6 separate regions of the Homo sapiens genome follow, and regions 1, 2, 3, 5 and 6 are each reported to be linked to region 4. Evidence: microRNA targets listed by miRTarBase, many of them from high-throughput screens and not tested one by one. Region 4 holds a microRNA gene; each other region holds the end of a gene's coding sequence.
What was found. Region 4 holds the annotated microRNA hsa-miR-616-5p (ACUCAAAACCCUUCAGUGACUU, at 3,124-3,145, opposite strand). A microRNA usually pairs through its seed, bases 2 to 8, with sites in the 3' UTR of a target mRNA and lowers its output. Matches are read on the target gene's strand: a 7mer-m8 pairs with bases 2 to 8, a 7mer-A1 pairs with bases 2 to 7 and ends in A, and an 8mer does both.

Region 1 (5,084 bases), not on the chromosome of region 4:
CTTCCACAGTGCTTAAGCAGCGCTGTCTTCTGAACTGGCTGGCTGTGCAGCTCCTGTCCTGCCTGAAACCACAGGGGTGGGAGTTGGAACACAGCGAGCTGTCTCTGTTTAAAAACATTCCAGAGTTGAAGTCCAGATTGGCCTCAGATAACCCACAGTGGGGCTGCAAATCATTGACAGTTGGTTACAAAAATAAACAATCAGAGGCTATGACATTTCTAGACTGGCACGGTGGCTGACGCCTGTAATCCTAGCACTTTGGGAGGCCAAGGTAGGCGGATCACCTGAGGTCAGGAGTTGGAGACCAGCCTGACCAACATGGTGAAACCCCGTCTCTACTAAAAATGTAAAAAATTAGCCGGGCGTGGTGGGCGCCTGTAGTCCCAGCTACTCAGGAGGCTGAGGCAGGAGAATTGCTTAAACCCGGGAGGTGGAGCTTGCAGTGAGCCGAGATCGTGCCACTGCACTCCAGCCTGGGTGACAGAGCGAGACTCCATCTCAAAAAAAAAAAAAAAAAAAAGAATGTGACATTTCTAAAATGCTGAGGACGTATTAAAATGGTGTTGATGCTAATAAATACATAAATAATTAAATACAGACGACTTACCTAGTGGTTTGCAGGGCGGATGCAAAGAGAGAATTTTACAAAGCAGCCCCTTCCTCCGGAAGGCAGGGCAGGGTTCCCTCCTTCCCAGGCTGGGAGCCCTCTGCTTGGGAAACGCCGGCTCTTCAGGGTGCGGGAGCTACCACACCTGGGGAGACTGGGCCCAGGGGACTCTCCCCCTCCTTTCTTTAAAACTTCTTGGTTTTCTCTCCCTCCTGACGGCTTCAGGATGACATGACTGACTCCCTGCGAGATTACACCAACCTGCCTGAGGCTGCCCCTTTGCTCACCATCCTGGACATGTCAGCCCGGGCCAAGTACGTGATGGACGTGGAGGAGATCACCCCCGCCATCGTGGAGGCCTTTGTGAATGACTTCCTAGCAGAGAAGCTCAAACCGGAGCCCATCTAGCGTGGCTCCGGCCTCCTGAGACGTTATTTAAAACTCAGCCTTCTCCTCCTCCCCCTCCTTCCTTCCGCCCTTGGACTTACCCAGCGTGCCCCGAATCCCACCACCCAAGTGTCCAGCCTCTCTGTGGTGCCTTGTTTCTGCAGTAAACTCCTCAGCCAGCACCCTGGGGTGTGGAATCAGCAGCGGCAGAGTCCACCGTGTTTGGAGACTCTGTTTGGGAGCACGGGATGGCCGGGGGCCCGGCCAGAGCGGGGCTGCATGGCTTTCGCAAAGTCACTAGCTTTTGGTGAAGGATCTGCCAGGGTGTCCTGGGCAGAGTGAGCGTGGAGGGCCGGTGGGTCCCGCTCGGGCTCTGACTCTGACGTCGGCACACACGGCCCCGGACGGCCAGAGGGGAACCGCCGGGTGACACCTGCGTGGAGGCTGAGCTGAGAAAGGGCCTCCGCTTAGAGCTGCGGGTGAGGACGTCCTTTTCTAAGCAACACAGTCTTCCTCGGTCTGAGAGAAAAGCAGCCCACTCTTGTGTTCTCAGGCAGGGGATCTCCAAATGCAAAAGGAAGCTTGTAGAGGTTTTTTGGGTGAGAAGAAAAATGTAGCTAAGGTAATGGTTCATATCATACAAACAGCTCCCACGATCCTGAAATTCTGTTAACGAATCCTTCTCTTTGGACATCTTCCCAAGAAACTTAGCCCTGAGTCCTAGGAGGAGCACCTCTGCACCAGCACGGACCTCTCGCTCCACCCAGCTCTGTGCCCAAGGCCCCTGATCTCTGCTGAGGTGCCCACACCCACGTTCGATCACCCCTGCCATTCCCTTTTATTTTCTTTTTTTTGAGATGGAGTCTTGCTCTGTCGCCCAGGCTGGAGTGCAGTGGCACCATCTTGGCTCACTTCAACCTCCGCCCCCAAGGTTCAAGTGATTCTCCTGCCTCAGCCTCCCGAGTAGCTGGGATTACAGGCACCCGCCACCGTACCTGGCTAATTTTTGTATTTTTAGTAGAGATGGGGTTTCACCATGTTGGCCAGGCTGGTCTCGAACTCCTGACCTCAGGTGATCCACCCGCCTCGGCCTCCCAAAGTGCTGGGATTACAGGCGTGAGCCGCCGTGCCCGGCCCCCTTTTCTTTTCAAAGCAGAACTACAAAGATGAGAAATTACCAGAAGCCTCGCCTTTTCCTAAGCACCAGCGGAAGGAGCTGTGCCCCGGGATGGAGTGAGGGTGGAGGGCGCGTCAGCCACGGGTGGGCCTTGTGTCGCCTTGTATCGGCCCAGGTAGGTTGTTGGCCTCTTACTTGGGCTGACCTGACCCCCGAAAGAGAAACAGACAACTCTGTTCTCAGGATTGGGGATGGACGGCTTCGGCCAAGCGTTTTAGCCTCATTCACTCAGGCCCCACTCAGCACTCTGCCAGCCAAGACCATTGATTTGGAAAATCCGGTCCCCACCCGCTAATGAGCTGTTGACACTGTTGTTCCTTGCTGAATTGGATTGTTGACTTGTAGTTCAGAGGCGTACAACTAGTTGGCGATTAGACTTGTTATGTGATGTTACCAGCCTGAAATGCGATCACCCCGTAGGAAATAAAGCAGGCATCTCTGGACCTCATCCACCCTGGGCCTCTGCTGTCCTTGATCACAAAAGTTGTTTTTGCTTGTGGTCCTGTGCTCTATCGGGGTGGGCAGTGGAGGATACCTGGTAGCTGGGAGCTGAGTCCCAGGAGTTTTGAGACCCCCAGGATGTAGCATCTGTCACATCCTCTTGGCTTCCGGCAGCCAGGAAGCTCATTTGGATGACCGTGGCAGAGGCAGATCCCTCCTGCAGCCCTGGCCACCGTCTCTCCTGGTTTGACTTGGCCCTGGACGGAGGGTGAATCCTCAGATCGCGTACCTTGCTGTGGACATTCTTGCCCATTTCCTCCCTCCAGGGGAGCCGAGTCCTCTGAAGCCTGAGAAAGCTGGTTGGGAGAACAGGAGGAATCACGCACGGGTCTCCTTGTGAAGAATGGGCCAAGTGTGGGAGCCTCTTAAACCCAGCAGGTCCCAGGCTCAAGGCTTCTCTGGGAACGCTGCCAGAGTCTCCCTTAGGGGTCGGGGTGGGTGGGATGAATGTGGCCGACCTGAATGTGGGAGGTGGCAGGATTTCTCTCCATGTATCATGATGGCCTCGGAGGAAAGGTGGGTTCTCTTAGCAGCTGCTTACCTTTGGGGCAGGAGGAACAAAGTCCAGCGAGGGGGTTGCCCTAAGTCATTGCAACTGGATTCTTGACACCAGAATTCCCCTTTTAGAGTGGGTCTGTAGCTTCCTTAAGACCCGTGGGGAAGGTTTACTCCAAAGGTTCAGGTTTATACAGTGACTGCTTTGCGGGAAACCGTTAGGGAAGAATCACTTCTGAGTGTCAGGGATCGATAGTGAGAGGTCGTAAAGGCCACAGATGCAGGCGAAGTGGGTGGCATGATAATCCCCGCCAAGCAGCTCCACCTTCAGATTCTTGTTGCTAATTGGAAGCAGGTTCAGCACCAGCTGTGGCATATTCAAGGGCTTCCTCCGGCAGCCAGGAAAACCAGGCCCTGCAGGTGGAGGCTGGGGGCGGCTGTGAAAACGCCACTCTGTGGTTCCCAGATTTGTGTTTACCACAGTGACTTCCAGATCCCATCCATTCATCCTCACAACAGCGATGAGGGTTTTTTTTTTTTTTTTTTTTTGAGACAGAGTCTCGCTCTGTCGCCCCGGCTAGAGTGCAGTGGCACGATCCCAGCTCACAGGTTCAAGCCATTCTCCTGCCTCAGTCTCCCAAGTAGCTGAGATTACAAGCGACACCACCGCGCCTGACTAATTTTTGTATTTTTAGTAGAGACGGGGTTTCGCCATGTTGGCCAGGCTGGTCTCGAACTCCTGACCTCAGGTGATCTGCCTGCCTTGGCCTCCCACAGTGCTGGGATTCCAGGCGTGCGCCGGCACAGCCAGCCTGTTGTTGTTGTTTTTTTTAACCTGTCTTCCCAACATTAAAAGCCTGTTGAAGAAAAAGGGTATGTTTTCCACATTGAATTCCTAATTGGGAAAAAAAATACTAAAAAAAGAGAAAAGGGTATGTTTGGGACCAGCACATACAGCAGATGAAAACCAGCTTCTTTTCCAGAGCGAGGTGACTTCCTGCTCTTGCTTTTCGCCCCTTGGTACGTCCTTGAAATCAATGGCCATCACTTACCAGAACGCAGGGAGCGAGTGCTGTGTTGGCATCGGCCAAGCTTCAAATAGTAATTTTCAGCCAGACTTTGTTTTTTCCTGTTGCCTAATTAAAGACACTGAAAAGCTGTTCTCCCCTCCTGCTGCCTTGTTCTAGGACAGCAAACTGAATTCAGGAACAATACAGACGGAGCCGGATGTGGCCCAGGAGCAGATGCGCGGGACCTAACACGGTGTTGCCCCGTGCAGCTTAGGGAGGAAATGCAATGTATGAGAGGACACACGTCTGGGAACCCTGCACACTGGGAAGCGTAGTACCAGCAGGGCCCTGAGCGAGGGCACACGCTGTTGACGGTGCCGTTGCCCTGGGCAGGCCCATGTGTTGTGCGCGCTGTGGGTGGCTGTGCACACAGGCCCGCAGGTTCAGGAGTAGCACTGAGCAGGGGGCTGTGAGCTCAAAGGATCTTTCCAGTTTGCCCCGAAGCAGCTGAATGAGAGAAGTGGGCACTTGGCTACACCCCTCACTGCTGCCGCCAGCAGACGAGGGCACACGCCCTGCTTCCTCCAGGCTGCGGCTGCGCAAGGGAAAATTCTTTGGGAACAAATAGCTGTTGACCAGTAGCTTCATTAGTGCTGGGAATATAACATGAGGGCGTTCTAGGTACACCTCGTATGTGAGCGCATGAAGACAGGTAAGTATGCCTACTGCCATTTTTCAAGGCGTGTGTCTCACCCCCTTGGTGCTTTGGGACACTTCCCAAGCCCGAGAATGTGTCAGGAGGTTTGGGTGGAACTGTTGGGTTTCTGTTAAACGATACACAACTCGTGAAAGACTCTGTCCCCAGGTCTGTAGGCCAGTGTGCAATCCAGAGGCAGAGACGGCCTCC
Region 2 (5,084 bases), not on the chromosome of region 4:
AGGGCAACTCCAGACAAAATGGGGATTCATGCCAAGTGGGGAAGCAGTGGGGGACCCCAAAACACCCAGCCTGCCCAGAGAACACACCGGGTACCCTAGATGACAAGGATATCCTGCTCCTAGAAAAATCTAGAACGCCCCATCCGATCACTTTCCGTTCTCTCTTGCGTTGCCTCTCGACCTTCTCGGCTCGGCCCTTCTCACTCCAGGCTACAACCCAGTCTCCAACCCAGCTCTCCCAGGGCGCCTCACCACTCTGTTTTCCCTGTATTTACTTATGTTGGTCTCCCCAAGCCAGGATGTAGGCCCCAAGAGGGTGGTGGCTTTTGTCTGGTTTGTTCCTGAGGTGTCCTCTGGTACCCAGAGGATATTTGATAGACATTTCTTGAATGAATGAATGAATGAATGAATGAATGAATGAACAAAGGCATGGCCATGCACATACTGCTTTCATCATCCTCTCCCACCCCTGTCTGCTCAACAGTGTTCCACTCTGGGTCTGGCCATCGGGGCGGAAGCCGGTATCTAAGGCCACTCTGTTCCCAAGACCGGACAGGGGCGCGGATCACTTAGAGGAGGTGGGGCGGAGACATGGGACCTTCAGGCCTAAGGAAGCAGGACTGCTGAGTGGATTCAGTGGGGACAGTGACCCCCAGTGGCCACTGAGAATTTGTGCATGAAAACAAGTGTGTTACTTCAATATGCCAGGCAAGGGAAGTACAATCTGGCTCAGCTTCCAGCTGCATTAACTCAGTCTCTCGTTTCTCTGTGGGTGACCCCCCCCTACATTTTCTCTTACCCCTCTCCCCTACCAAAGCAAACAAAGTCCAAGGTTTTCTAGCTGTAGAGACTTTTTCTGATGAAGAAACAGGCACAGACCCATGAAGTAATTTGTCCAAGTCTGTCTGTCCTACACACACACCCAAGGTTGAACTGTAGCTTAATAACCAGGGAGGCTGCAGAAGTCCTGGGAGACCCCAGACCAGGGAAGAAGGGGCTGGAGCAGCTCATCCTCCACCTCCTCCCTCTCCCCATTTGATGTTTCCAGAGCCAAGGACTTGGAACCTATGTTGTTTAAGTGAACGCTGACAACTATTTAGGTAAGGAGGGCCAAGGGCATCGTTACACAGATGTGCTTTCAGCAAAGACGACGGAAGTGGATATAAGGGAGGAAACTGGAGTAAACGAGGACCCCAGGAGACTTTCTCCCCTGCCCCGTGGCACATCCTCCTGCCCCTCTCTGCTAGAGGGCCCTGGCCCTGTGGGCACTTGCTGAGGATGGCTGGGCCCGTTATCCACGATAACCCGAGGAGGCACCGCATACCCCTGTCCACCGTACGGGCCACTGCATAAAATGAAGGCTTCACCCTCTGCTGCCCACGCTGAGCCTCCAACTTTCTTCCTTCAAACGCCGACCTATCCTCACAATCCCAGATTCCAGGGAAGTCAGGTCAAGTTCTCCCAAGCAGTCTCCCCAAGCCTGAGACTGATTTTCTTCTAGGCACCCCCAGCAGCAGGAACTAATATTCAACAGTAGAGTTGCTAGAGACATCTGGAAATACTGCTCAAAACAGAAACAACGACCCCTCCAAGTACAGATCCAGAACCATGAGAAGGATCTTCAACCCAGCAGCCACTGTAAGGTGGAAGCCTGCCCAACCTTCAGGCTGGGCTCCCTTTGCAAAAGCTTTCCCAATACACTGCCCAGATGGTTGCAGGCAGTTTTAGACTATGACACTGAAGTGACTTCACTTGGTCTTTTATTGCCAATTTTGATTTATATTTAAGGATGATGGCTGAGAACAGGCAGGCCATCAGGGGTCCCCCACCCCAACTCCCACAATCAATGCACAAGAAACAGATTTGTAAAACCTAATACTGTTCTTCTTTTTCTCTTTTTTTTTTTTTTTGAGACAGAGTCTCGCTCTGTCGCCCAGGCTGGAGTACAGTGGCACCATCTCAGCTCACTACAAACTCCGCCTCCCGGGTTCAAGCGATTCTTGTGCCTCAGCCTCCCGAGTAGCTGGGATTACAAGTGTGTGCCACCGCGCCTGGCTAGTTTTTGTATTTTTAGTAGAGATGGGGTTCCACCATGTTGGCCAGGCTGGTCTCAAACTCCCAACCTCAAGTGATCCACCCACCTTGGCCTCCCAAAGTGCTGGGATTACAGGTGTGAGCCACCACACCCAGAAAAACCTAATACTGTTCCTCCCCAGGTATGGCCAGGAAGCAGGCTGCTCAATAAGGACAGGGGACCCATGGTCATTCATCTGTCTGCACAGGATCAACAACTGCAAACCGCACCTCACGCCAGCCACATGACACTGAAAGCTGTCTCTTTTCAGAAGAGCTGATGGCACCTCCTGCATACTGTCCTTCAGTCCGCGGCCCCAGCAAAGGAGGATGTCAATCAGTGACGGGGCAGAGATAATCAAGAAAATGCTTTCGGCTGGGCGCGGTGGCTCACGCCTGTAATCCCAGCACTTTGGGAGGCTGAGGTGGGCAGATCACGAGGTCAGGCGTTGGAGACCAGCCTGACCAACATGGTGAAACACCATCTCTACTAAAAATACAAAAATTAGCCGGGCGTGGTGGCGGGTGCCTGTAATCCCAGCTACTGGAGAGGCTGAGGCAGGAGAATCCCTTGAACCTAGGAGGTGAGGTTGCAGTGAGTGGAGATTGCGCCACTGCACTCCAGCCTGGGTGACAGAGCGAGACTCTGTCTCGGAAAAAAAAAAAAATGCTTTCAGTGGAAATGCATTTAACCAGAACAGACCGTATCCAGGGAAAGTTTTTTCCCTTAGATTTCTCAATCTTGGCTGCGCATCAGAATTACTCCAGGAGCTTTAAGAAATCCTAATATTCAGAACATACCCCAGACCGATTAGGCCAAATCCTCCGAAGCGGGAACCCAGGCACTGGTATGTCAGCTCTTAGGTGATTTCAGTATGCAGCTACAGTTGAGAACCACCCGTCAAAACAGATACCATTTGACCAGGCATGGTGTCTCACGCCTGTAATCCCAACACTTTGGGAGGCTGGGGAGGGAGGATTACTTGAGCCCCAGGAGTTCGAGACCAGCCTGGGCAACATGGAAAAACCCCGTCTCCCCTAAAAATATAATAATTAGGCCAGGTGCAGTAGCTCACACCTGTAATCCCAACACTTTGGGAGGCCGAGGCAGGCAGATCATCTGAGGTCAGGAGTTAGAGACCAGCTTGGCCAACATGGCAAAACCCCATCTCTACTAAAAATATAAAAATTAGCCGGATGTGGTGGCACACACCTGTAATCCTAGCTACTCAAGAGGCAGAGGCAGGAGAATCGTTTGAACCCAGGAGGCGGAGGTTATAGTGAGCCGAGATTGTGCCACTGTACTCCAGCCTGGGCGACAGAGTGAGACTCCATCTCAAAAAAAAAAGAAAAAAAATATATATATACACACATACTTGTGTGTGTGTGTATATATATATATATGTATCATATATATGTGTGTGTGTGGGTGCATGTGTGTGTGAAATTAGCATGGCATGGTGGCACATGCCTGTAGTCCCAGCTACTCGGGAAGCTGAGGTGGAAGGATCGCTCGAGCCCAGGAGGTCGAGGCTGCAGTGAGCTGAGATAGCGCCACTGCACTCCAGCCTGGGCAACAGAGCAAGACCCTGTCTCAAAAAACAAAAAAGATACTTTTTTTGCTTTGAAAAACCAATCTAAAAAACTAACCTATTTAGATACCAAATTGCATATGAAATAAAATCTCAATTCTCTTTTTAGAATAAATAGATCCACAAAAATGCTAAGGAAATATACTACAACATTAACGAGGGTTACTTCTGGTGGGAAGATGATGGGTGATACCCATCTTTTTCACTTCACTTAGTTACTAAAAGAATAAGCATCGTCACCTTTAAAATCAGAAAACAAACACAACTACCTTCCAAAGTTTAATCAATCAACTCCTTAGAAGTGAAATCTAACAATCACTTCAAATACTCTAAAATTCGACAGAGTAAAATCTCAAATTACTTTCTCATCTTCCTAATTCTTATTGAAAAGGAGTCCCTCCATGAAGTGTGTGCACTTTCACGAGGATGCCAGGGAGGACTCACTGATTTTCACACTGGATAACGTTGAACCGCTCCAGTTTCAGAAACTCATCAAAAAGAGGATTTACTACGTTAAAACGTTCATGTCCCAAGTTAAAAATGGATACTGAATACAACAGCATCCATATTTCTGGAGAAAAATCAGTACACATGTCACTTCTGTTATAGAAATCCATTTACAGTGTGTCCCGCTCCATGGAAGCCCTGGTCTCAGGCACCTCCAGCTTTACCGTCTCCCTGCACACACCGGGAGCCTGGTAGGCTTCGAGCAGAAGCCGAGGTCCCATCAAGGGTCCAGACTTTCCGTGCCTCCTTTGTTTTCATCGAGTCTGGGCCGCTTTAGCTCTGGGGGACTGCCCTGAGCGTCTCCAGGCGTCTCTGCAACATTAACAAACATAAGGTTGGCAAGTAAATGAAGAATTCTGGAAGTCAAGGGCTGACATTTACAGAATACAGAGCCAAGACACGGAACTGAGCTGCCTGGCAAGATCCTATACTGATATAATGGAAGTTCTATAGAGTGGCTCTCAACCAGGGGCGATTTTGCCTCTCAAGGGACAGTGGGCAATGTCTAGTGGCATTTTTGAATGTCATGGGCAAGCTGGGCGCGGTGGCTCACGCCTGTAATCGCAGCACTTTGGGAGGCTGAGGCGGGTGGATCATTTGAGGCCAGGAGTTCAAGACCAGCCTGGCCAACGTGGTGAAACCCCCGACTCTACTAAAAATACAAAAATTACCCGGGTGTGATGGCGCACGCCTGTAGTCCCGGCTACTCGGGAGGCCGAGGCAGGAGAATTGCTTGAACGTGGGAGGTGGAGGCTGCAGTGAGCCGAAATCGTGCCACTGCATTCCAGCCTGGGCGACAGAGCAAGACTGCATCTCAAAAAAAAGAAAAAAAAAAAAAGAATGTCATGGGCAAGAAGTAGCAGCCGGGGATGCTGTTAAACATCGCATAATACACAGGACAGTCCTCCACAA
Region 3 (5,084 bases), not on the chromosome of region 4:
AGAATCAGAGAAACTAAGTGGAGAAAATCATGATAGTATTTCCCCAAGTGTATTCTATGGAACCCCATTTCTGTGAGAATTTTAATAAAAGGTTTCAGGGTTATTTAAATTTAAGAAATGATCATTTTGGAGGTTCAGATGCCACACTGGTAGACTGTCAATTGGGCTGAACTGTTCTCATATGAAACATCTTGTTTAAATTTATTCTAATATTATAATTTTTGTGACCATGGAACCTTGGTCTATGAACAATAGTTCAGGAAACCCTACTATAAGGTTTATCAAATGGTCTCATAAACAGTTACTTATTCAAGCACGCCAAAGCTCAGTGAAAAGTATTTTTCACCCTTACTCTTTCTCGTGTCATTCAAAGAGAAGTTTTGATGTAGTGTATTTATTTGTAGGGAGTAATGAACAGATCCATTTCACAGTAGACTTTGTGCTCTAGGTGATGCAGCTAATTGCCCCAGTTTGGAAAACATGGACTTGGATGAATTGTCTTTGTTTGGACCCCTGCCTGGGCCAGGCCCAGCCCTTGTGGACCGGAATCGATTATCCAGTGAGAGCAGCTGTAAGAGCTGGCTGAGCTCCATGACGATGGACAGTGAAGATGGCTACCAGACGTGTGTGTCTGAGGACTCCAGCAGGGGTGCCTTCAGTCGGCAGACGAGTACAGATGATGAGTGCTTTATCCCCAAGGAGGGGGATGATTTTCTGAGGAGGTCATCTTCAAGGAGGAACCGGAGCATCAGTAACACCAGCAGCGGATCCATGTCTCCCTTGTGGGAGGGCAACTTATCAAGCATGTTTGGGACCCTGCCCCGGAAGAGCAGAAAGGGAAGTGTCCGAAAGCAACTCTTGAAATTTATCCCTGGCCTTCATCGTGCTGTGGAAGAGGAAGAAAGTCGCTTTTGACGGATTGTGGTGTCCTTTCAAATTAGCTTATTTCACAAATATCTCTAGACTCACCCAGATCCCAGCTTGGTGGGAAAGTGCAGAAGAATTGCAAAACTGACATCCCATTTCACAGCAATAGTGACCTTTATTTAAATTGTTGTGTTATAGTTTATGCTTCTTAAATCATTTTTCAACCTAAACAGCCAATTTCTAAGCAGACAGGAAAACTAAATAATAAGTTAATTAATATAACAAAGATGCAGGTTCCTGCTCATTCCAGTAATGTCTTTGAAAGCAAAACTAATATTTATTTTCTAGATTATCCCTGTGAATAATTGAGAACTTTTTGGAGTCAAGTATGAATAAAGGTGTGGCAGAATATAATAATCTGGACTATTTTCTATAGGATAATTGCTGGGTTATAAAATCTTAGGTTTGCTTATGCCCAGTAGCTCCTGCGGAGGCTTAATAATAGGCAATTTTGAATTTGTTCAAACCTGTAATGGCTTGTAAACAAAGATGACCATCAGCTGTTTCTCACATCTATAGTGACAATAAAGCGGGAAGTATAAGATTTAATAGGAGGGGTTAAGGTTCATGAGAACCATGGAAAGATGTGGTCTGAGATGGGTGCTGCAAAGATCATAATAAAGTCATTTTTATAGACAGTCTAAACAAAATGGGTGGGGATGTCGTGTTTTTTGCCCAATTCAGCTTTTGTTCTGCCTGAACATTAATGGCAAGTCTAGAACTCTCCGAATCCTACAGCTTTGTAATTTTTTTTCTACAAATGTCTAACATCCAAAACTGAGGGTTGGGAAAAGGACTTCCCTCCTGTAGTTTTTTTCATATTACTTCTCACTTTATATCTTATATTCTAAATAGCTATCACCTCAGCAGTCTTTTGCCTATTGGTTATGTTAGTATCACATTACTTCTAGCCTTTCAATTACTCCATGTTTTATTTAATATCCATTGAAGTCTATGAATTCTCTGTTCTGGTGGCACAGCTATTCATAACCTATATTCTAGAGTAGACAATCTGGACTATGTAATAAATAGTCTGCTGATTTTAAGTTCTCTCTCTCTCTCTCTCTCTCTCTCTCTCTCTCTGTGCGTGTGTGTGTGTGTTTGGGAGAAATAGAAACACTTCAATTTAAGTAGAGCTGCTAAATTTAATTAAACTTCTGCTTAAGAAATGAGTTATTTTGAGATAAAAGAGGGTAGGGTAAGGAAGCATCTAAGATGAGAAAGAAATGATAAAGTATGAAAAGATTTCTAGTTGGGACTTGCCTTCTATTAACTCTTTGAACTGAGAAACATCCAGTGGCCTGTGCATGACAGTCACTCATATGAAAGGCAGGGTGTCACACCTTTCACAGAAATGATAGCAATACTGTCTACCATTTACTGAGTACCTAGTTGGCTAAAGACACTTTACGTATGATCCTCACAATTACTATATAGTAGGTGTTAGGCATACAGATAACAAGTCAGGAATTTGGAAATGTTCTCAGGGTCACAAGGCTAGTCAGTGGCAGGGCTAAAATTGGAAGCCAGTTCTTCCTTGCTCTAGTCTATTCCAGATATCTTTTACTCTTTTGGTTCTGTTTAGTGATCATCACAGTACTTTTTATTCCACCCAACAGGAATACTTAAAATGTACAATTATAGATGCTGCACAGATAAGAGCATTTCTTTGGGTAAATAGGAAAACAAACATTTCTCTGTTCCTCATATACAAGTTTCAGACATAGGTTCTTTAATAACTACATGATTAGCAGTGCATTTATTTTCAACAAGAGCTTGCAAACCAGTTATGATTCAACTGGTATTGCTTATTTCTCATCATAGTCTAGAATCATCCTGTTAAAGGTCTACTTATATGAATTCAGCATTTCTTGTTATCCTATTTCACAAAGTCCAGGGGAAGGAAACACCACATTTATTTGAGGAAAGATGACTTTGAAATCTTCTACAAGGTGAAAAAATGCTTTGAGAACTACACAGAATGACATAGGTCATACGGGAAAGCAGACCATAGATCATTTGCTTTTCTTGTGATTTTAATACAGAAGTGTAACACTGCTGTATGACAGTAGACCTCAAATGCAAAAAAGGGGCAGGGAAGGGACGGAGCAAGCATCACTTTAGTTTGCGGTAAGAATTAGAGTCGAGGTATGTTCTGAGAATAAAGAAAAAAGTACTGGTTAACCAAAGTACAGGAAGGAAGGGTATGTCATGTTCTATATTTCACAAGCTGTAAGAAAATTAGCTTTTGTTTAGTAGAAATGTGGGTAAATTTCTCACAGTATAACTTTCAGACTAATTTATGACTTCAGTCAGGCTTTAGAAGAAACTTCTGGTGCATAGTGATTCATTCTGATATAATTTACTAGGGAAAAAATTGAAAAGTGTTTTTTTAACTTGAAAGTTCTCAAATATGTATTACTGGTGAATTCCATTAATTGACAACCTGTTATGAAAATGCATTTTTCTAGAAGGGCATTTGATAAACCAAATTTGAATCAAGTAGATTGGGAATTACTTTATCATGTGGCTGAAGAACACAACCATGACAAACAGATTAGTAATATATTTTTGGAAGTGAACTTTTATTTATGACTTTCTACCTTGTAATAATTTTATATCTTAAGATACAGATAGCATTTAAAATCCCAGTTTGCGCTGAATAGATCAAACTTGGAAATAGTATGTGTGTCTTGATCACCAAAGTACAGACATTTTTGAATGTATACATACTAAAAATAGTAAGTAATACATAACTATATTGAGCCCCTCAGATCATAAAAGTATTGTTATTTTATATCCATTTCCTTACATACCTATGGGCTACAAAATCAAAATTTGATGCCTTTATGAAATAAAGAATGCTATTTTTCAGTGTCAGGACTTTCTCTCTCTTTCTCTGTCTCTCTCTCTCTCCCTACATTTCTCTCTACCATAAAGAAATAATTGTCTTAAAAGCAGACTTTTTAAAAAACCTGGGTGATTCTCAACATTTACTTCTTTGAGGACCTTAAAAGACACTACTTACTTAATTGAGACTTTGCACTATTAGCTTTTTTATTGCTATTTAACAAATTACTGCCAGGCATGGTGGTTCACACCTGTAATCCCAGCACTTTGGGAGGCCGAGGTGGGTGGATCACCTGAGGTCAGGAGTTTGAGACCAGCCTGACCAAGATGATGAAACCCCGTCTATACTAAAAATACAAAAATTAGCCGGGTGTAGTGGTGCATGCCTGTAATCCCAGCTACTCCGTAGGCTGAGGCAGGAGAATCGCTTGAATCCGGGAGGTGGAGATTGCAGTGAGCCGAGATCACACCATTGCCCTCCAGCCTGGGCAAGAAAAGTGAAACTCCATCTCAAAAAATAATAATAATAATAAAATAAAAATAAATAAATAATAACCACAAACTTAGAAGCCTAAAATATATTTATTATCTCAAAGCTTCTGTGGGCCAGGAGTCTGGGCACAGGTTAGCTGGATCTGCTCAGGATCTCACAAACCTGCAATTTACTGCAATTTTGGTGTTGTTATCTGGAGGCTTGATTGGAGAAGGATCAACCTTTAAGCTCCTTCAGGTTGCTGTCAGAATCATTACCTGGTGGCCATACAATTCATGGCAGCTTGATTCTTAAAGGCTGGTAATGAAGAGGAAAAAGGGAGAGGCTACAAACAAGACAGAGTCTTAAATAATACAATGTTATCGCCTTTGCCATGTAACATAACCTCTTAAGTGACTTCCCGTCACCTCGCCTAATAATGTAACATTAAGATGGGAATAGTATCCTATCAACTGTACCATGTTCTGTTTGTTAGAAACATGTCACAGGCCCACCCACACTCAAGAAGCAGGGATTACACAATCATGAATATTAGGAGTTAGGGATCAGGGGACCACCTTAGTCTGTTTGTAACACCATTCAAGGAGTTCACAGACTTGATAATATAAGGGTATTGAGCTGTCTCTAAATCTCCTTGAGTAAAAATTAGTGACTGTCATAATAATTTCCACATAAAGAAATGGAAGCATTAGTGAATTTTGGAATGAAATAACCTGGTCAAGATTGCATAACTAGCCAAAAAGTTGATTAAGAAACTTTCTGGCCTCCTGACTTTGTCTCCTTGGTGCGTGAAGTGATAAAAGAAGATTTAAAA
Region 4 (5,000 bases):
GCTTCCTCACTTACAGTTTTTCTTTCCTGTCTTAACTAGAAGAGACCTTCGACTTAAAGGTAACCACTTTCCCTCTGAGATGCTGTATAAAACTGGAGGTTAGGGGATATTTATGGTTGCTGGTGATAACTTTGTTGTTCTCCAGGCAAAAACGTCCCCGAAGCCAGCAGTTGTAGAGACTGTTACAACAGCCAAGCCACAGCAGATACAAGCGCTGATGGATGAAGTGACAAAACAAGTATGAAGCTTAAGCCCTGTGGGAGACTGGACAAGCTGAATCCTAAATAGATCTTTTTCTTGCCTCACTGTTACCTCCCCACCCCCCTTTATCTTAGGGAAACATTGTCCGAGAACTGAAAGCACAAAAGGCAGACAAGAACGAGGTTGCTGCGGAGGTGGCGAAACTCTTGGATCTAAAGAAACAGTTGGCTGTAGCTGAGGGGAAACCCCCTGAAGCCCCTAAAGGCAAGAAGAAAAAGTAAAAGACCTTGGCTCATAGAAAGTCACTTTAATAGATAGGGACAGTAATAAATAAATGTACAATCTCTATATACAAGCTGAGACCTTTCCTTTTGTCTACTCCAAGCCTTCCCCCTGCGTATGTGGGATTGAGGGTCACATCATTGGCACTAGTGAGAGGGTAGTCAGTAGCCACTTCTGGGAAAGGTGGGTAGTGTGGCCCAAGTGGGGGACTGATGCTCCCAATTGTTCATGCTTGGTGCAGATTCACCATTCGGTCAATCAGAGCTCGGCGAGTCGCCTCTACTTCCCTGGTCAGGCGCTCGATTTCCTGCTTGAGCCGTTCATTCTCTTCAGCTAGCTGTGCCACTTTCCTTTCATTCTCCTGTTCTTTCTCCTTCATGCGCTGCTTTCCAGCCCGGGCTGGGGAATGACCACTCTGTTTCCGTTTCCTGGTTCTCCCTTGGTCTTCCTCCTCTTCCTCCTGAGCCAGGGAGCTCTGACTGGAATCTGGAGAGTGAGGGCTCTGGGAGGTGCTTGTGACCTCTGCTGGTTCTGGCTCCTCCTCAGTCAGCCAAGCCAGAGAAGCAGGGTCAAGAGTGGTGAAGATTTTTGATTCTTCCTTCAAGGAAATGAGGAAAGGGAACATAGATATTAGTTGAGAAGGGAAAGGTAACATCCCCCTTTAGCTTTAGGGCTAACATTCTTACCTCTTCATTTCCAGGAGGTGAAACATAGGTACCCCCATTTTCATCTGAAGACAGGACCTCTTGCAGGTCCTCATACCAGGCTTCCAGCTCCCAGCTGGACAGTGTCCCGAAGGAGAAAGGCAATGACTCAGCTGCCATCTCTGCAGTTGGATCAGTCTGGAAAAGCACATCTGCAGGATAATGGGGAGTGGCTGGAACAAGCTCCATGTAGCAAACAGTCTATGCCACAAGTTGGCAAGCTGGTCTGATGCCTGTTTTTGTAGGTAAAGTTGTACTGGAATACAGCCACATCTGTTTATTTACATATTGTTTATGGCTGCTTTGGTGCTACAGTGGCAGAGATGAAGAGTCACGCTAGAGACTATAGGACTTTTAACATCTAAAATATTTACTGTCCTGCCGTTTAAAATTTTTGGAAAAGGGTAGGTTAAGTTTACCTGCTTTCAGGTGTGGTGATGTATGAAGATACACTTCCTTCTTGAACACTGTGGGCAACAAAGAGAAATGTCAGCCATTTTTGGAAGGGGGAGAGGCAACTTACTTTTCTTTTTCTTTTTTTCTTTCTTTTTTTTTTTTTGAGACCAAGTCTTGCTCTGTTGCCAGGCTGAAGTGCAGTGGTGCGATCTCGGCTCACTGCAACCTCTGCCTCCTCGGTTCAAGTGATTCTTCTGCCTCGGCCTCCCGAGTAGCTGGGACTACAGGCGCGTGCCACCACGCCCAGCTAATTTTTGTGTTTTTAGCAGAGATAGGGTTTCACTATGTTGGCCAGGATGGTCTCCATCTCTTAACCTTGTGATCCATCGCTTCCCAAAGTGCTGGGATTATAGGCATGAGCTACCGTGCTGGGCCCTTATTTTTCTTTTACCTCCAGCCTCCTACTGGTCCTTCCTTACTTCTGGTCTTGTGGGGTATGCATACTTGGTCCCTGTAGCCATTTCGAAGGGCAGAAGAGGGCCTGACTTTCTTTATTTTTAGTTGCTGACATTTGTAGTCCTGGTTACATAATAGTAAAGTCCTGGCCAACTCAGCTTTCTCTAAATCCAAAGCAGGCCTCAAATCTGCCAGGGTAAAAACTAAACTACAGGGAAGGGAACAAATCATAGCATTTTCCTAACTCCATTCCCACAGGGCTGACATCCTCCAAATGTACATTTCCAGTCTGGACCTCTTCCAGAACTTCAGACTCTGCTGTCTACTGCCTACTTGCCATTTCTTTTTCAATGTCTAATAGGCACCTAAGACTATGTGCAAAGGCAAACTCTTGCTGATTTTCCCCTTCCAAGGTCATCCCCATCTCAGATGACAACTCTAGTTGCTTAAGCTAAAAACCTTGGTATCATCCTTCATTCCTCTTCTCTCACACCCTGCAATCCAAAGTACTAGCAAATTTTAACTCATTCCTTTTTTTCTGAGACGGGTCTCACTCTTTTTGCCCAGGCTGGAAGGCAGTGGCGCAATCGGCTCACTGCAACCTCCGCCTGCTGGGTTCAAGCGATTCTCCTGCTTCAGCCTCCGGAGTAGCTGGGATTACAGGCATGCACTGCCATGCCCGGCTAATTTTTGTATTTTTAGTAAAGATGGGATTTCACCATGTTGGCCAGGCTGGTCTTGAACTCCTGACCTCAGGTGATCCACCCACCTCTGGTCTCCCAAAGTGCTGGGATTACAGGTGTGAGCCACCATGCCCGGCCCTTAACTCATTCTTTAAAAATGAGTTTTTAAAACCTTTGCTTAGAAGAATCTAAACACTTCTAATTCCATTGTTTCCAATCTAGATCAATTCACTACCATCTCTAAATTACTGCAGAAACTTTCTGACTGCAGAAGGTCTTCCCATTTCTTCTCTTGCCACCCCTCCGCAACTCTATTCACCATACAGCAGCCTGAGTGAGCCTTTTAAAACAGGTCATTCCTCTGCTCAAACCCTCCAATGACTTCCTATTTCATGTCATGGAAGTCACTGAAGGGTTTTGAGTGGAGGAATTACCTAAGGTAATTCCTGACCACCTGATGTAACACTCTGACCTCCATCCTGAACATTCTCCATTCCTTTCTCTGCTTTAGCTTTCTCCGTGGCACTTATATTTTGTTTACTGTAGGCCTCCCACTGAGATGATTTTTTCCTCTTGCTCAAGGATGTACCCTGAGCCCCAAACTGTGTGGCACACAGTAGGTCCTCATTAAGTATTTGTTAAGAATGAATGGATAAACTCCCCCCAGTCTCTCTTATAGGGAAGGGGCAGAAGCAGAGTGGCAGCTGCTGATCCCTAGGGGCTAGAGATGCAATATTGCCCGAAGTATTTCTCTGCAGGGCTGTCCTCCCTGGGGAACCCTCCCTTGCCTTCCAGTGTGTGGGACTTGGCTTTCATCAGCAGTAGAGCCTCAGGTCAGAAGGCTGCAGAGCCAAACGGGGCTGGCCTGATGCAATGGTTACACAGAGATTAGCTGGGAGACAGGACCGGGTTAAAGAGGCAGGGACTAATCCCGAGGGAAGGACAATACCCTGGGGAGACCCCAAATGGCCTCCTACACTTAAGAGATCCAGGCTGCTCTCTTGTGCAGGAGGCCCAGAGACCTCTACGGCAAAAGGAAAACACACCACTCCCTGTCCATCGGCACCCCTCCCAAAGGCTTGTGTCTCCTCAAGGTTCCCCTATCCGCTGCAGGGTCCAGTAGCCCCAGCTACCAAGGTGGCCATGCTGACACCAGAGGCACTGAGACTGAGACAGAATTGGGGGTGGGGTAGGGAGAAGGCCCGCTGGTGGCGAAGCGGCGGAAACGGCCTGAGCGATGGTCACCCAGTCTTAGAGCGGGGGTGTGTCCTGCTGACCTGCCTCCCCGCGGACAGGCCTAACGATGAGGCCTGAAGTTGGCTACGGGAAAGAATGAATTTCCCAAGGGCAACCGAGGTCCCTTTGCCCAGCAGCACAGAGCAGGGCCCGTGTTCCGGCTCCGGGCAGGGGTGGAGAGACGCCGTCGTCCGAAGCAATAGGGGTTTGTAAGCACCACCCCAGAATAAGGGACTCTCCCCATTCCTCTCTCGGACGGTCCCTAACTTCACTGTGGAGGAGTGAGGCCGATCCTAAAGAGCGGACGCCCCAACTTTGAGGAGACGGGAGGGTAAAAGGTAGATGGGAATCAGTACTCGCCTCTCTCCTCAGGTTCCAGCTCTGATTTTGGCTCTGTCGCTGCCACCCGCTCATCTTTAACATGATACGCTCAGTGCCTTAGACTTAAGTCTCTGACCTCGGGAGCGCCTGGCTGTAATCTTTTACCATGGCCTTGCCCTCCTCTCAGGGGCGGGACCCCAAAACCTACCAATCAGAAAGTGGCACGCCGGCATTGGCCCCGCCCCGTCCCTCGCATCCGCCACTCAGGAGCCCCGCGGCACCGCCCCCGTCGCTCCCTCTCGCTAGGGGGTCGACGTAGTGTCGGACCCGGAAGTGGCTTTGGGTCACGAGGCTTCACGGAGGAGGTGGGTGAGTCATGCGCGCGCGCGGAGGGGAGTGTAGCGGGGGGGGAGGGGAGGAAAGGGGGGCGGGGATGATGCAATGTTTGGCAACCGGTGTCTGCACGCGCACGCGCAGGGGACACCGAGGGTGGTGGGAGGTGCGGAGGGTGGGGGAGAGGAGAGAGGGCGGGGCGCCAGCTCCCGGCGCCCAACGGCCCCAACGGCTATCAGCCTTGGTCGCCCCTAGTCGGTCGTGAGCCTCTTTGCCGCTTGTCTCCCCCAGAAGCTGCTGTTCCGCCCACCTAGCTTTACCCGCCGTTTTACCCCCACTATAAGGGACTCCCATATTTCTTGGCCCCTCCCAGCTAATGGGCACATAG
Region 5 (5,084 bases), not on the chromosome of region 4:
TAGGACACCCCAAGGAAATGGAAATGCAAGGCAGAGACGGATCGTTGTGTAGGGCTCTGGGAGGCTGAGCAGTATGAGATGGAAACTGGACTTGGGTGGTCAGGGAACAGTCTGCTGAGATGAACACTGCTAGCTGTGTTTGTTGCCTGAGGGCCAAGGGGAGGCCTAGGGTGAAAGGCAGCCAGGAGGGGGCTGTGGCATGCACAAGCAGGGAGGGGGGTGTGGCACCCTGGCTGGCTCCTCTCCCTGAGTGCCCTCTCCCACTTCCCAGGTCTCTGCAAGGGCCACAGTGGCAGAGCGTGGAGGAGGCGTTCCCCCACATCTACTCCCACGGCTGTGTCCTGAAGGATGTCTGCAGTGAGTGCACCAGCTTTGTGGCAGACGTGGTGCGTTCCAGCCGCAAGAGCGTGGACGTCCTCAACACTACGCCACGACGCAGTCGCCAGACCCAATCCCTCTACATCCCTAACACCAGGACTCTTGACTTCAAGTGACAGCCCCAGGTGGCCAGGCCTCCAGGAGGCACCAGGCAGGCCCTGTATCAGGCTAGGACGCTCTGAGCTGTGCATGTACATATATACATATATAGATACATTTATAATATATACACACAGTCTATATATTTATATACACTGTTTCCTGGCCCCAGAGCTCATTTGGGTTCAGGCGCACTTCAAAACCCTCCCTGGGGGAGGCTGTTTCTTCTCAGGATTCCTTGCCAGGGAGGAAGGGGAGGGAACAGGGTGGGTTTTCTCACTGAAGAGAGAAAGCAGAAGGTTCTAGATCCTGGCACAGACTGCATCCCATGTTCCCATGCTCTTCTCCGTCCCCAGGAATGCGAACGGCAGTTTCCCTTCCCCAGTGGACGTCTAGGTGGGGACAGGGTATCTTGGCTCCCAGCTGGACCAGAGTGCCCTGCTTGCCTCTGCTCTCCCTTTGTGGGGACTCAGGCAGCAGAGGCATCTGGGAAGTCTCTGAGTAGGCAGGGTCCTCCTGGGAGGCACCCCCACCTGTTTGAAAGGTCTGGCCAGGCGTGGTGGTTCAGGCCTGTAATTCCAGCACTTTGGGAGGCCGAGGAGGGAGGATCACCTGAGGTCAGGAGTTTGAGACCAGCCTGGCCAACATGATGAAATGTTGTCTCTACTGAAAATGCAAAAATTAGCCAGGTATAGTGGCAGGAACCTGTAATCCCAGCTACAGGGGAGGCTGAGGCAGGAGAATCGCTTGAACCCGGGAGGTGTAGGTTGCAGTGAGCCGAGATTGCACCACTGCACTCCAGCCTGGGCGACAGAGCGAGACTCTGTCTCGAAAAAAAAAAAGGTCCGTGCCAAGCTGCTCCCTGCCCTTGCCCTTTCCCTTTCCCTGGGGTCCAAACCACATGTGTCCTGCCTCTCCTGGCCCTACCACATTCTGGTGCTGTCCTCACTCGCCCCTGGCCCAGAGGCTCCTGAAGATGCTGGGCGGTCCTGGCACAGGGAGGAGCAGCTCTGTAAATCTGTGCACATGGCCACTCTTGGCCTAATAAAGGAGGTCTCACAGTCTTCTGTCTGGGATGTGCGCTGAGGATTCACCCAGCATGGCATGTTCTCCCAAGGTTGAAGCTGGGCTTGAGGGGCCACCTGCCTTCCAGGACGAGGAAAGGCCTCCTGGCTTAGAGTCAGGTGCCCACCAGGCAAGGGCTCCAGGCCTGCTCTGTCCACGCAGCCCTGGCTGCCTCTACCAGCTTCGTGGTCCTGGCCACCATGGTCAGGGCTGCATGCGGACGGCACAGACTACTGCCCATCAGCTCCTCTGGCCACACCTGCTGGCCTGGGGGGTACTTTGGTCTCATTTCCCAGATCCGTATTCTCGTTCTCCAGGGAGAGGATCCACAGGGGCAGGAGGTGTGACTGCAGGCTCTAGACAGGCCCTGTGCCGAGTGCTGTCTGCTCACCTGCGCCCGGCTCAGCCTGTTAACGGGGCCCTGCCCTGCTCCTCCGTGACGTTCTGCCGTCATCTTACCTTACAGATGAGGGAACTGAGGCTCAACGAGGTCAAAGAATTTGGCCAAAGATACACAGCTCACCCAGAACTTTGACTCCAGGCTGTAATGCTAGCCGTGGGGCCTGGAGGTCAGAAGGGACAGGACTTGTAACTGATGGGCCTGCGGGAGAAAATACTCCTGTCAGCTGGGGTCCAGGAAATCCAAACACACAAAATTAGAGCCCCCAGTAAAAACAGCCAGCTTCTAGCATGCGTGTAAGCATTTCACGGACTCTCTGGCCTGTATTTTTATTCCTGTTTAAAAATAAGAAAACAGGCACAGAGAGGGTCAGGGAACTCCTCCGGTCACACAGCCAGCAATAAGCTAATGTGTAGTGCTTGGTAAGGACGACGGTTGTTCTGGTTCTACGGGGACTCACACTCCCTATCATGGGGAGACTGGGTTGTAATTCATACAGGAACACTTGGAAATGAAAGCCCACGTTAAAACCCTAAACCACGGCAGGTGCAGTGGCTCACACCTGTAATCCCAGCACTTTTGGAGGGTGAGGTGGGCAGATCACTTGAGGTCAGGAGTTCGAGACCAGCCTGGCCAACATGGTGAAACCCCATCTCTACTGAGTACAAAAATTAGCCGGGCATGGTGGCACATGCCTGTAGTCCCAGCTACTCGGGAGGCTGAGACAGGAGAAGTGCTTGAGCCTGGGAGATGGAGGTTGCAGTGAGCCGAGATTGCGCCACTGCACTCCAGCCTGGGCAACAGAGCAAGACCTCATCTCACAAAATAAAATAAAACCCTAACCCATCCTGGGAGGGGCCAGGCCGGCTCACCAGGGCTGCTGCTTGTGCTCATGAAGCCGCAGTAAGTCGGGCAGGAGGCTGCTGGCACCTGTCTTCTCTATGCCCTCCTGTCCCCATGTCCCCAACCCCAGGCACAGGAAGCTGTGCCCTCCGCCCACTGAACCCAGCACTGTCTCAGCCTCATCTACTTTATTTTTTTCATTTTTTTGAGACAGGGTCTGGCTCTGTCGCCCAGGCTGGAGTGCAGTGGCGCGATCTCGGCTCACTGCAGCCTCAGCCTCCCGAGTAGCTGGGATTACAGGCGTGCGCAGCCACGCCCAGCTAATTTTTGTATTTTTAGTAGAGGGAGTTTCACCGTGTTGCCCAACCTGGTCTCGAATTCCCGACCTCAGGTGATTCGCCCACCTTGGCCTCCCAAAGTGCTGGGATTACAAGCGTGAGCACCGCGCCCGGCCCTTAGATCGTGACAAACGCGGGCGGCCTGTCCTAGAACTGTCAGAACCACTGTCCCTAAAGAGGCCTCGGGCGGGCAGTAAGGGCCGCGTCACTCAATGCTGCTCGAGGGGCGGCGGCTCCAGGGCAGAGGCGGGCATCGACGGCTAGATCACTCGAATGACACCCTGACACGAAAAGGACCAACTAGCAACGTCCGGGACGCAGCTGAAATGCTGCAGGCACGGTGCGGGGACAGGCCCCGGCGGGCAGAACGCGGCTGCGGGTTCCGGGCCACATGGATGGGCAAGGCCGGGCAGGGCCGACTGTCGCCGGCTGCGCGCCCGTTACCCCGAATCGAAGCCCGTCATCCCCGCGGGGCACCTCTCCATGCCCGGTGCGCACGGCGCGCAGACACCCAGCTCTCCAGAGACCTGGCCCGGACCCCCCGGAGCCCGCCCAGACGCCGCCGCTGAAGCGGGAAAGTTCCGGAGAGCCGCGACGCGCAGGCGCCGCAGCCAGGTCCTGCCCCCACCCCTCGCGCCAAGAGTGCGCAGGCGCGCAGCCAGCTCCCCCGCCCCCGACCCCGCGCGAAGAGTGCGCAGGCGCGCCGACAGCCGAGTTTTCTGCGCTTCCTTCTCCCTCTCTCCAGACGTCGTGGTCGTTCGGTCCTATGTCGCGCCGGGCCCTCCGGAGGCTGAGGGGGGAACAGCGCGGCCAGGAGCCCCTCGGGCCCGGCGCCTTGCATTTCGATCTCCGTGATGACGATGACGCGGAAGAAGAAGGGCCCAAGCGGGAGCTTGGTGTCCGGCGTCCCGGGGGCGCAGGGAAGGAGGGCGTCCGAGTCAACAACCGCTTCGAGCTGGTGAGGAGCGCGGCGGCCCGGGTGGGGGTGGGGTGGCCCTTGACGTTGTGGGGCGGGGCGAGCGTCCAGCCGGGTCGGGGAGCGGGGTTGTGATGCCAGGGGTGGGAAGGGTGACGTGGGTCCCAGCCGCAGTGGGGAGGGCGGGGCCGTGCGTCGGGGCCAGGGCGACGCGGGTGGGCGGTGGCGTGGGGTGAAGACGGCGGGCCGCGGAGTTAGACTGGGTTCTAACCCCGGTGAGGTGGGCGGGGCTAAGGGATGGGGCGGGGCCGTGCTGTCGGGGCGGGGCGACCGAATGGGCGGGGTTAAGCGGGGTCCGGGTTGTGGAGGGTGCGGGGCCTTGATGCCAAGGGCGTGGCCAACGTCCGCGGGGCCGGGCCACGACGTGGGCGGGATTAAATGGGCCTGCGGCCACGTGGCTGTCGTGGGGCCGTGACGCTAAAGGGCGTGGCTAAAGACGGGGGGGTGGCGAGGCGATGGCGTGGGCGGGGTTAAATGAGGCCTGGGGCCACCGTGGGGGTGGGGCCACGGCGTAGGGGCAGGAGTCGGGTGGGGCTTCCCTTTCTCGAGTCTAGAGGGGCCTTCTCTCGGTTCCAGGGTTGAGGACTTGCCAGGCCTCTGCGAGCATTCTGCTTTAATCCTCACAACAACTCTGCCTAACCCAGGGCCTTGCTCTTCGCGCATCCCCATCAGCCTAACCCAGCGGATTAGTCTTACTCTTTGCTGCATCTCCGGCAGCTCGTTTCTGGCACAGGGAAGTAACAGTTTGACTGTATGGTTTGCTCATGCGGTCCTGTGACGTTTTCTCCTAAGCCCTGGCCTCCGTCTGTAACTCTGCCTCTGCGGGCTCTGCGATCCTCCCACCTCAGCCTCCTGAGTATCTAGGACTACAGGTGGATGTCACCACGCCCGGCTAATTTTTTTTTTTTTTCTTTTTTGTAGAGAAGAGTTTTCGCCTTGTTGCCCAGGCTGGTCTAGAACTTCTGCGCTCAAACAATCTGTCCAC
Region 6 (5,072 bases), not on the chromosome of region 4:
AAGGAAGGGCCTTGCAGCCACAGAGACACTCCACTGCCCTGGGGCACACAGTGGACACTGCTCTTCCTACTTCCTCCTCTCCTGGATGCTCATCAGCTCCTTCTGCCTCCCCCCCTTTTTTTTCCATCTTTTGTTCCCCTAAATTAATGCTGCTTGGATTTTCATCTTATTTATAAAGATAAAATCACCTGGAAGTGTCAAGGAGTGGGGCGGGGTGGCGGGGGAGAAGCAGCCGTGCTGCCAGGTCACCCAGACCTCCAGACAGCCGGCTAGCCCCACTGCCCGTTCCTTTTACGCCCAAGTTTTGCTCCTTGAGAGCAGATTGGCTGATGCCCCTGCAACCCCAGCCCAAGCTCTGCCTCAAAGACCGAGTGACATAAGCCATTCCCACCCTCCTAGGTTCACATCCAGGGCTGTGTCTTCCTTGGGGGAGGAGATGGTGTCGTTTAGATCAGGGTAAGGCAGTCAGGCGGGTGTTCACCACTGCCTTTTCTTCCTCTGAGCGTGAGAACACTGAACCCAGCCACTGCCCCTGGGTCCCTGTCCTGGAAATGGTCTAATAAATCCTTTTCCCTTCTTGAGCTACCCAAGTGATCTCATCTTTCCTTGACTCTTAACTGAGACTCTGAAGGGCCACCCTTGCTTCCAATTAAAAGACCCTCTGGTTTTCTGTCTCCTCTCTTTTCTAAAGCAGAGCAGGAAACAGAACACTGCAGTTCTTAGGCCTGTTCTCCAGTCAGGTGTGCAAGGCCTCCTCCCCTTAAGGCCTCAGAAGTTTGGCTGGGGATGTTTGTGGGATCCAGACAGTTCTTGCCGTTGTTCGGCCTACAGATCAGAGACTGCAAAGTGGGAGCCCTGCGTACCAGACCCGTCCTGCAGCTGTGTTTGTTTGGTTTGGTCTGCCGCTAACATTTAAAAGTCGAGAGTTGCTGGGCGCGGTGGCTCACGCCTGTAATCCCAGCACTTTGGGCCGCTAACATTTAAAAGTCGAGAGTTGCTGGGCGCGGTGGCTCACGCCTGTAATCCCAGCACTTTGGGAGGCCGACGCGGGCGGATCACAAGGTCAGGAAATCGAGAACATCCTGGCTAACACAGTGAAACCCCGTCTCACTAAAAATAAAAAAATTAGCCGGGCGTGGTGGTGGGCGCCTGCAGTCCCAGCTACTTGGGAGGCTGAGGCAGGAGAATGGCGTGAACCCGGGGGACGGAGCTTGCAGTGAGCCGAGATCGCGCCACTGCACTCCAGCCTGGGCGACAGAGCAAGACTCTGTCTCAAAAAAAAAAAAAAAGTCGAGAGTTGACATAAAAATTCAGAATTCTGACTTCTAGAAGATTAAATTAGGTAATGTTGGGCCTGCGTCCTCATGGGGCAGCCTGTCAGCGGCCACTAAGTAGAGGCTGCTCTGTACAGAAGGGGTCCCCCATCCCCACTCATCTGTGTTGCCTGCCCAGATAGCCCCATGGCCATTTCAGTTTGCGACCCCCAACAGACCAAGGACCCAGAGCTGGCAGCCCTGGACCCACGTCCGGCAGGCAGTGAAGCTGCAGAGGCTGTCCCACGTTTACCCCATGCATATAAACAGACCAAAGTCAAAGCACATTCACACAGAAAGACCTGGCCTAGTAAATGAAGCTTATAGCCTGCAAAGGGCTTTGTTCCAACCTTCCCTCTCCAAAACCCAGTACTGCTCCTCTACCTTTCAAACCTGGTTGGGCCAGAACTGATTACATGGCCAACTCTTGGCTCACACTGGGCTTGCACTGGGCCATTTCTTTGCTCTGGTTCAGAGCCTCTGCAGAAGTGAGCTAACTTTGGATCAGTAGCTCCAACACTTGGCTCCAGTGCTGGCAGGTTACCCCTCAACCATAGCAGCTGGGATCTTTGTGGCTTGGGGGTGCTTGTGTAAGTTCTTGGTTATGTGCCCTCAGCCACCAGGATATGAACCGTGTCTGCAGAGCTTCACTTTAGTGAGCTTACAAGTTTTTAAATTTTTACTTCTAGTTACATTTACTTGAATCAGAACGTTGTTTCCTCATTCCTACTGCTTAAACACCTTGACAAGTCCTAGGGGTTAACAAAGGTTAGCATGGCTATGGTCCATCCCTGTGCTCTAGTTAGAGCGTGAAGACACCTGACTTTCCAGTTGTCTCTCTCCATGACCAGCAACAGGAACCACTGACGCTGAACTTTGGACAGTGGCCTCAGACTCTGGCTGCCAGCACACAACCTGCCATCATCGATGTTAAACATGCTGACATGTGCAGAGGAGTTTCCTCCCTGAAATGCTCTGAAATTCACTTCTCTGCCTGGGGATTCTGTTATAAACCTTCTGCCTACATTGGCTTTCACTGTGGAAGTTGATTTCTAAAACTCTGATGAGCTCACAACGTTGACATGTATATGCGTTTTTTGTGAGTGCTTCCTGCTCAAAGTGGGAGAGATTTTACTGGAAATGCAATAAAGTTTGCATTTTATTGCTACCGATGCCCACCACAAAAGCGTTAACCTCAGAAAGCTATAAGAAGCATCAAAAGATTGCCATAGCCCCCTGTAAGAGCTTCTGAACATTGTCCAAATGAAAGGAGGCTCAGCTGAATTCTAATTTTCCTAAAGACCCATGTTTTTAGCATCTATGAGCTTTCTACAAATCTCCCCATTGGCTGCATCTCTGACCTTGCACCAGTATCTGGTTGGGATTCCCTTTTTTTTTTTTTTTTTTTTTTTTTGAGACAGAGCCTTGGTCTGTCGCCCAGGCTGGAGTACAGTGGCGAGATCTCAGCCCACTGCAACCTCTGCCTCCCAGGTTTGAGCGATTCTCCCGCCTCAGCCTCCCAAGTAGCTGTGATTACAGGCGCCTACCAGCACACCCAGCTAATTTTCATATTTTTAGTAGAAACAGTGTTTCGCCATGTTGGCCAGGCTGGTCTTGAACTCCTGACCTCAGGTGATCTGCCTGCCTTGACCTCCCAAAGTGCTGGGATTACAGGCATGAGCCACCAAGCCTGGCCGGGATTCCTTTTCAAAGTCTGGCTGCACCTAGAGCCAGTTTGCTTCTGCTTGGCCTCATGGGGCCTCAGAGAAAGCCACAAAGGAGGATGGGTCTTTCCTGGGTTCATTTAACTGCCATTTATAACACTTTTTCCTCTAAACAGCTTAATGGACTTCCTACTACTTGTATAGTTTGATTTTCAGGACTCTGTTCAGCAAGAATACCTACTTTACAAAACTCAGCATAAAAATGAGGTGAAACAGTTTAACTAAAACTGGAGTTTGGCTGGGTAGTGTGGCTCACAACTGATCCCAGCACTTTGGGAGGCCGAGGCAGGAGGATTGCCTGAGACCAGGAATTTGAGGCCAGCCTGGGCAACATAGTAAGACCCCCGTCTCTATCTTAAAAAAAAAATAAAAGAATAAAACAAGTTCCTTCACCTCTTGACAAGACAAAGCTGACACTTTTTTTTTTTGAGACAGAGAAAAAAAGAAAACTCTACAGCCAGAATCATACTTTTGAGTCTCGCTCTGTCGCCCAGGCTGGATGGAGTGCAGTGGCGTGATCTCAGCTCACTGTAACCTCCGCCTCCTGGGTTCAAGTAATTCTCTGCCTTGGCTTCACGAGTAGCTGGGATTACAGGTGCTCGCCACCACGCCCGGCTAATTTTTGTATCTTTAGTAGAGACAGGGTTTCACCATCTTGGCCAGGCTGGTCTTGAGCTCCTGACCTCGTGATCCACCCGCCCCGCCCTCCCAAAGTGCTGGGATTACAGGCGTGAACCACTGCACCTGGCCACTTTCTTAAACCTACACATTGGTTGCTGTGATATTAATTCTATTTTTACAAAATAAGTGTATAACCAGGAAGTACTAATCCTGCTTTCTATGCCCAATTGTTAACAGGAAAGGGCTCAGTGCACTTCTCAATTGTCACCCCTGCCCCCAGCCCTGATCCACGGCCTCTACCCCAAGAATGAGCCAAGAACCAGCTGCTCTAGGGATCTCAGCAGCAAAATCCTGCCCAAGGCTGTTAAAATGTGTGGGCACTCATTTACACTCGTGCTGTCATGAAACACATCCTTGAACAGGGACTATTCTCTTTCATTTCCATAAGCAAACTGGCGTCTAAGGCCACAAGCCCTCCGTAAAAATAAGAACTCGGCACAAATGGCCAGTCACATGCTTACCTGCATTTTTAAAGACAGCTTTCAGGTATTTGGGGACTACATTATTACCAAACCTTGGCTTTGGGAGATTATACAGGTCCGAGGAACTCGTGTCTACTGCAGACGAATGCAATTACCCCACCTTCCTCCATACAGAATTGTTAGGAAATGTCCACTCCTTTGGGGGTGATTTTTCTCCTCAAGTTGTAGCCAACATTTTGTCCGTAACTGATTTCAGGGCAAACATTTCTGACATCTTCCTCCAGCTCAGTCTGCCATGCCTTGGCAATCCAGTTTCCTGTCATATGCGAGCCATCCAAGTTGATGCCAAGTAAGATTTGCCCAGCTCAAAGTGAAAGTGTTTGCGTCTTGGTATCCGGAATCCTCAGCCCCAGTAGCAAAGCTTTAGTCATTCACCTTCATCCAATAGACGTTTGTGAACGTCCTGCTGTCCATTTTGTCAATAAACAGGCAGCCCTGCAGGTGGTCCATCTCGTGCTGGATGATGCGGGCTGCCCACCCGCTCGCCTGCCACACCACCTGTTCTCCATTGGGGTCCAGCCCTGCAAAGGAAGTTACAGCCCTGGTGAGTGGGAACAGCTGAACTGCATCATCCTCAACCTCCCTACCCCTGCCCCCGGTCCTGGCTGTTCCCATTGACAAGAGGCAACAGCAGATGGCAAATGTAGACAGCAGCTCCTCTTCTAACTGGAAAACGTCCCTCATCTCGGTCCATTACCAAGCGTTCAACCTGGTTCCCAACTCTGGTAATTAGGTTATCGAGCTCACTGTAGAGCTGAGATGAGAAATCATCTTTCTACGGTGCGACCCTTCCGAACACTCCTCCCACTTCTGAGGTACCTGTGGGCTCCCAACTCCTAACAGAGGTTCTGCAGCTTGAGACCCCACTTGTT

Region 1: miRTarBase lists NXN as a target of hsa-miR-616-5p. Seed matches in the 3' UTR shown: 8mer at 1,845-1,852.
Region 2: the mRNA of CHAF1B is a reported target of hsa-miR-616-5p. Seed matches in the 3' UTR shown: 7mer-A1 at 4,016-4,022, 8mer at 3,666-3,673, 8mer at 3,408-3,415 and 7mer-A1 at 2,109-2,115.
Region 3: the mRNA of CYTIP is a reported target of hsa-miR-616-5p. The part of its 3' UTR that is shown has no 7-base or 8-base seed match.
Region 5: the mRNA of SPIRE2 is a reported target of hsa-miR-616-5p. Seed matches in the 3' UTR shown: 7mer-A1 at 1,103-1,109.
Region 6: the mRNA of PDF is a reported target of hsa-miR-616-5p. The part of its 3' UTR that is shown has no 7-base or 8-base seed match.

What each region holds. Positions count from the first base shown.
Region 1 is chr17:796,880-801,963 of GRCh38, reverse strand. It overlaps NXN (nucleoredoxin), which reads left to right. Exons shown (of 8, transcript NM_022463.5): 8 at 833-2,654. The coding sequence ends at 1,015. Among named protein-coding and RNA genes, the nearest start is that of MRM3, 17 kb to the right of the region's middle.
Region 2 is chr21:36,415,675-36,420,758 of GRCh38, reverse strand. CHAF1B (chromatin assembly factor 1 subunit B) reads right to left here. Exons shown (of 14, transcript NM_005441.3): 14 at 1,744-4,484. The coding sequence ends at 4,393. Among named protein-coding and RNA genes, the nearest start is that of CLDN14-AS1, 12 kb to the left of the region's middle.
Region 3 is chr2:157,411,508-157,416,591 of GRCh38, reverse strand. It overlaps CYTIP (cytohesin 1 interacting protein), which reads left to right. Exons shown (of 8, transcript NM_004288.5): 8 at 449-1,973. The coding sequence ends at 915. Among named protein-coding and RNA genes, the nearest start is that of CYTIP, 30 kb to the left of the region's middle. RefSeq lists an enhancer at 2,841-2,890.
Region 4 is chr12:57,516,100-57,521,099 of GRCh38, forward strand. It overlaps MIR616 (microRNA 616), which reads right to left and starts at 3,160; the gene lies at 3,064-3,160. MARS1 (methionyl-tRNA synthetase 1) reads left to right here. Exons shown (of 21, transcript NM_004990.4): 20 at 146-238; 21 at 336-553. The coding sequence ends at 482. DDIT3 (DNA damage inducible transcript 3) reads right to left here and starts at 4,415. Exons shown (of 4, transcript NM_004083.6): 1 at 4,319-4,415; 2 at 1,607-1,654; 3 at 1,170-1,339; 4 at 494-1,081. The coding sequence starts at 1,307. The coding sequence ends at 710. LOC128125814 reads right to left here and starts at 4,381. Exons shown (of 2, transcript NM_001414991.1): 1 at 4,319-4,381; 2 at 1,613-1,654. The coding sequence starts at 4,381. The coding sequence ends at 1,613. It also overlaps a transcript of MBD6 not described here. RefSeq lists enhancers at 3,251-4,212, 4,183-4,312, 4,187-5,000, 4,213-5,000 and a silencer at 4,383-4,842.
Region 5 is chr16:89,869,779-89,874,862 of GRCh38, forward strand. SPIRE2 (spire type actin nucleation factor 2) reads left to right here. Exons shown (of 15, transcript NM_032451.2): 15 at 272-1,541. The coding sequence ends at 494. It overlaps TCF25 (TCF25 ribosome quality control complex subunit), which reads left to right and starts at 3,814. Exons shown (of 18, transcript NM_014972.3): 1 at 3,814-4,081. The coding sequence starts at 3,890. LOC112268179 (a long non-coding RNA gene) reads right to left here and starts at 3,710. Exons shown (of 2, transcript XR_002957933.2): 1 at 3,190-3,710; 2 at 599-2,143. RefSeq lists enhancers at 2,572-3,528, 3,299-3,458 and silencers at 3,539-3,658, 4,129-4,598.
Region 6 is chr16:69,324,459-69,329,530 of GRCh38, forward strand. PDF (peptide deformylase, mitochondrial) reads right to left here. Exons shown (of 2, transcript NM_022341.2): 2 at 2,455-4,721. The coding sequence ends at 4,564. VPS4A (vacuolar protein sorting 4 homolog A) reads left to right here. Exons shown (of 11, transcript NM_013245.3): 11 at 1-2,481. COG8 (component of oligomeric golgi complex 8) reads right to left here. Exons shown (of 6, transcript NM_032382.5): 6 at 1,970-4,721. Among named protein-coding and RNA genes, the nearest start is that of PDF, 3.6 kb to the right of the region's middle.